Linked DNA regions of Homo sapiens: region 1 is linked to region 2. The links come from fine-mapping of genetic effects on gene expression. A gene starts in region 2. The other region holds a variant in brackets. All regions are shown on one strand. Distances are between the middles of the regions.

Evidence for each region. PIP is the estimated chance that this variant, and not a neighbour inherited with it, causes the effect.
Region 1: its variant is the best candidate, but not a certain one, in a credible set for the expression of HIVEP2 in CD4 T cells (CEDAR, PIP 0.88).

What each region holds. Positions count from the first base shown.
Region 1 is chr6:142,826,953-142,829,738 of GRCh38, forward strand. The region is part of intron 2 of HIVEP2 (HIVEP zinc finger 2); the gene reads right to left. Among named protein-coding and RNA genes, the nearest start is that of HIVEP2, 120 kb to the right of the region's middle. The variant T/C (reference allele first, on the strand shown) is at 1,096.
Region 2 is chr6:142,943,836-142,946,621 of GRCh38, forward strand. HIVEP2 (HIVEP zinc finger 2) reads right to left here and starts at 1,341. Exons shown (of 10, transcript NM_006734.4): 1 at 1,264-1,341. It overlaps HIVEP2-DT (HIVEP2 divergent transcript), which reads left to right and starts at 2,654. Exons shown (of 3, transcript XR_001744397.3): 1 at 2,654-2,786. RefSeq lists silencers at 971-1,040, 1,181-1,280, 1,481-1,710, 1,941-2,570, 2,621-2,786.

The DNA.
Region 1 (2,786 bases), 120 kb before region 2:
GATTGAGTGATCAAGTGAATGGATGAATGAGTGAATGAATGATTGTAAACACGCTCACTCTCCATACTCATGTACTTTTGTGCCTTTGTGGGGTTTAGGAGCAATTGCTTCTTCTTCCATTCTACTACTCCTGTTAATTTCTCTCTTGTTATTCCTGTTAAATTATAGGATGGTTTGATACAATTTAAAATACCCCTTTGTAATAATATGGGTACCTCTGTGAAAGTTCTTTTATCAAGCCCGGTTGGCTATATAATTGCTTGAAAAAACAAAAACCAACTAAACATAACCATGATATAAATTTCACCCCTTTACATTTTATAATAATAGGCTGTTCATCTTAACAAAGCAATTTCTGAATTTTTCTTTAACAAGCTCTATTATTATTCCTAAAGTTTCAATTATTAATAGTATCCCTATCACCTCCTGCTAGCATATTGCACCCCTGCCCTGTGTTTCCTCAGGCTGGGTGTGACAAAGTACGCCTGCATATGACTGTGTGTTTTGTCTATGTACTGGCACATAAATATCCTTGAGGACAGGAAAAGAACTGGTGTATGTGTCTGTGTGCGCGCACGCACGTGCACGCACTTCCCTGGATTGTTCTCCATGGAAATCTCCCTCCAGATGGGAAAAGAGCCAAGGAGAGCCCGAGGACTTCCCTGACCCTAAGCCAAGGGTGTGGCAAGTGTGCTCACCATTATCAGCTGGTGCCCAAAGGGAAGGAGTGGGAAGGAGGAAGGAGGTAGCAGGGAGGAGGAGGAAAGCTGGTAGTAAGTGTGGAGATCTTTTAATTGCAAGAAAATAATCTGGGAGCCTAACATTTTTGCAGTATTTTAAAGTGTGCAAAGACTTCACAGGACTAGCACATTCTCAAATGACACCTCTAAGACCAACCCAAGCATAAAGATCTTCTGAGGCTTATATAAACTTTGCCCATTAAGGAGAAGTCACAGAAACAGTGCAGGCTTTTCCTCACTGGTGTACTTATGTACTCAAGATAAGTAATAACCTTTAGAATGTTTTCATCCTGTGTTTGCTGTGTTTTCAGCTATATTTCTATACTGAAACCTCTTCAAATTCACACAGCATTCT[T/C]AAATTGCCAAATCCATTGGTCCTTTCTTAGATCACAACATTGGTGATGACTTTGCGGCATGATACGCTGAACACTCCCTTAAATATAAAGCTCTAAGCTCAAGATCTGACATACCCTAGGCACTCAATAAGTAAGAGCTACTCTTGTCAGCGAGCTCCTCCTCCCTTAGCTTCCTTGAGACTTGCCTCTGTTAGTTTTCCAGCTACATTTCTGACAGTTAAAGTACTTTGGAATCTTTTATCTGATCTTCAAAGCCCAGACAAAGTGTTTTCCCCCAATAAACTTCCCCACTTTTGCAGTGTCAGAATTAATGCCACTCTCTCGTGTTCTCATAATCTTTGCTCAACTCTCATTATCTCACTAATCATGGCCTGCTTTGGATTTTAGTTGAGCTAATTTTTTTTTTTCAAGACAGAGTCTTGCTCTCGCTTAGGCTGGAGTGCAGTAGAGCGATCTCAGCTCACTACAACCTCCACCTTCTGGGTTCAAGCCATTCTCCTGCCTCAGCCTCCCCAGTAGCTGGGATTTCAGCCATATGCCACCATGCTTGGCTAATTTTTGTATTTAGAGATGGGGTTTCACCATGTTGGTCAGGCTGGTCTCGAACTCCTGACCTCGTGATCCACCCGCCTCGGCCTCCCAAAGTGCTGGGATGACAGGTGTGAGCCACTGCACCTGGCCTGAGAACATATTTTATATCCCCAACTAAATTTTCAGCTACTTGAGAACAGGACCATTCTTATTTCTCTCAATACTGAGCACAATGTCTTGCACATGGCTGGCTTTCCATAAATGTTGGTTGATTTAAAAGTTGACAACAGATATTAAATTGAATCTTTAACTGCTTCCTGTTTCCCACCTTTCATAGCCAATCCCAAGCCAAAGCCTATAGAATATTCATCTACAGTATCTCTCCCAAACCCTCTTTATATTCCTATTATGGTCATCCTAGTTCAGAACTTTACTACCTCTTATGGAGACTATCCCAATAGCTTCCTAATTTGCCTCCCTCCAGGTTTTCCAGTTCTTCTTGGTGATGCCATCTGTGGTGAGCAGATTAATCTTTCAAACTATAACCCAATCATGTGATTCCTTAGCTCAAAAGTGGGTAAAGTTTTTCTAATGCCTACCAAACTGATGTGCTAATTACATTCCAGACGTTCTATACTCTCTAGGTCTCTCGGTTCCTCCCTTCCTCTTCTTTCATGTCTCCTCTTCGCTTACCAATGTTATGTTCCAAACATACCATATGACTTTTCCTTCCATAATCACCCCAACTTTATCCATCCCAACACTTTACGTAGGTGAATATCATTCTCGCCACCTATCAAAACCTTGCACATCCTTAAAGCTGTCCTCAGGAAATACTTCCTGCTCCCCAAGCCCTCTACCCAAGCAAACCCATAAGAAAATTGATACGATTTCTTTCTCTTCACAAAACATTTTATTTATACATCTCTGAGGACCCTAGTACAAGTTTTCTTATATCCAAGTCAGGTATGTACTAGTCCGATTTCTATTTTAGGTAGGGTTTATAAGCAACTTGAAGGCTGAAATGCAGACTTACTCATCATTGTATTCCTCCACAGCACCAAAACACTACATTGCATATGGCAGAAATGCCATAAATATTCATTGAGTTTAAATGAACTAAAGCTTTTAAAAATAGCCAAAAAAGCTCAGGTTCCAT
Region 2 (2,786 bases):
ACAGGTGTCCTAAGGCCTCCAGTGAAACCTATTATCAAGAGATTCCTCTGGTCTCCTCGAAGTCATCCCCAGCGCCCCCCATCCGCCGCCCACACATTATTGCTTCTCTCCTCCAAGTGTCTTGATTAAGGACCCTCTCTCTTCTCCGCACTCCCGAGGTTAAAGTGCCCCCGTTCCCTTGGTGTAGCTAGTTACAAGCTTTCCCGTTAGGGAAGACTAGTGCCTGCAGTCCTTTTTAGTTAGATGCTTTTAAGTCAGAGATGAGAGGAGCCACTTGAAGAAACCCTCCTTCCCTTCTTCCTTTCCCCCACTGGGAACCAAGTCCCTGAAGGACAACACCCAGGGACGCTTCCTGACCTTCTATCCCCTCACCCAATTTGGGCTTGGAGGGTTGGGGTCGCATTTTCTCATGTCCTCTGCTGCACTGGATGTGTTATGTAAGAGGGACAGAACGCGGGAGGCACATGCGTATAAAGCGCACCGATCTGTGATAACAGCTGGGGTAGCAGAGCGGATCTGGAGTCCACCCCCCCCCCCCACCAAATACGACAGACCCCACACATGCACATCAGCACCCCCTCCCCCACACACCCACACACACACACACACACGCACACACCCAGAGCAATGTTTTCCTGTCTCACCCCTACCAGTACCAGAGGCACAGAATGGAAAGGCGGGGGGTGGGGGTGAAAGGAGGTGAAAGAGGAGGAGGAGCAGCAGCAGCACATCTGCTTTGATAGCAGCCGGCAGTGCCGCCGCGGCAGAGAGCCCCTCGTTAACCCCCTTCCTGTGGCTGCACCACGTCATGGAACATTCCCGGAACGGGCCAACGTTCCACCCACTTCAGGGAACAGACATAAAGGCGCAGACCCAGTTCCCCACAGTGCACAGCCCAAACACACATGTCCCTTCCCGATCCCCCGCCAGACGGACAGACAAACACGCATGCAAACCGCCCCCACCCGTCTCCACGCGCCCGGGTCCAGCCGGCAGCGGCCAGAGCCGCTCTGCAGCCGGTGCACCCGCAAGGCGAGGGCGCCTCCGCCTGAACCTTCCATCGAGACAGTCCCCTCCTTCCTCGCTTCCTTCCTTCGCTCCTTCCTTCCTTCCTTCCTTGCCCGGGAGGTAAAGGGAGTCACTGAAATGCCCAGAGCCAGCGCCTTCGCTGCGCTCGCTCGGCCGCAGGCCGGCGGCCCGGGCCTCGCGCCGCCAGCCCGCCCGGCCGCCTGCGCCGCGCGCCGCGGCCCCCTCCCCCGCTACCTGACAACGGGCCGCCGCCGGCCGCCGCAGCCGCAGCGGTGGCCGGGCCGTGCGCGCCGGTGCACGTCGCTCATTAGTAAGCAGGCACATTCCTGCCTCCAGCGCTCCCGCGCGGCCCCCTCCCCCCAGGACATTACGCAAAGCAGCCTCCCCTCATCTGCATAGATCCGCGGCCAGGGTATTCCCCGCATTTCCCCACGCGCCCGACACCCCTCCCGCGGTCTCCCCCATCCCCGCCCCCTCCGACCCTCACCCTCGGGCCACCGGGAAGGGGCTGGGGGCACACGCCGGGGAGCGGGGGACGGAGTTCGGCGGCGGCGATTCCAATATAAAGTGAAACAAGCTCCCAGCGCCGAAGGAGGCAGGAAAAACCCAGCGTCCAGGCCACTTACCGAGCCGAGGAGGGACCTAGATTCCCGCCGCTCCGCTCTCGCGGTGGCCGGTCCGCCCTCCGCGCACCCCGAGGCTGCACCCAGCACCCCAGACGCGAGACGTGGAGGAACGCTGTGAACGAGCCGGGAGACCCTCCAAGTTGCTCTGGGCTCCGTGGAGCGTCAAGGTCCAAGACACAACTTGGCAAAGACTTGTGCCACAGTCACCGAAGATGTTTGTGCGGAGACCCTCCTGCGGGGAACGACGGCGCTCGGCGGCGCCCCGCTCTCCTCCTCTCCACCCCCTCACCTCCAGCCCGCCTCCCGCCGGCCGCCCGCCTCCGGGCCGCGAGCCCCTCGGGCGGCTGTCAGCTCCCGGCCGCCGCCGGGTGACAGGGGCGGGAGGAGGGCGCGACGCGGCGGCCCGAGCCCCAGCGGGCGAGGGGGATCCTCGCAGCCGCGGCGGCCGCTCACCTGGAAAGTCACCGCTGAGGAGGAGGAGAAGGAGGACGGGGAGGAGGAGGGAGAGGAGGAGGGGGAGGAAACCCCCCTGGTGCCCTTGTTCTCGCTGCCGCGGCGGCCGCTCCTCGCCAAGGCTGAGCGTGTCTGGTGGGGGGTGTCTGGTAGCATTTCCTTAAGGACAGAGGGAGGGCGGGCGCGGAGGGAGGGAAAAGATCCCGACCGCCAGCCCAGGCTCCTCTTGCCTTTATTTATTTTTCTGACACTGTACGGAGATGGGCCCGGGGCAGGGGCCGCCGGGCTCAGGCGGGAGCCGCGAGGCCCGGGCCGCAGCTGTCTGCGTGCGGGAGCCGCAGCGGCCGCCTCCCCTCCCGGGCTGTGGACGCACCGGGTTATTCCTGGCAGCGCCTCCCCGAACAGAAGTTACTAGGAGGAGTGCGCGGCGAGGGCGGACGGGGGGAGAGGCGGAGGGAGGGAGGGAGGAAGAGGGAGAGACTCAGCCAACGACGTCATCGGATCCCCCAGCGCGTCCCAGGGAGGGAGGCTGAACCAGAAAAACCAGTCTGGAGCCAGTGAGCGAGAGAGGGATGTGCGGCGCGCGGGGCGACGGGGGAGGGAGGCGGTCGGGAGGGCAGGGCCGGGCCCCACGGCTGCCGCTGCGGGCGGGGAGATCGCGGCCGCGCACTCGCTCGG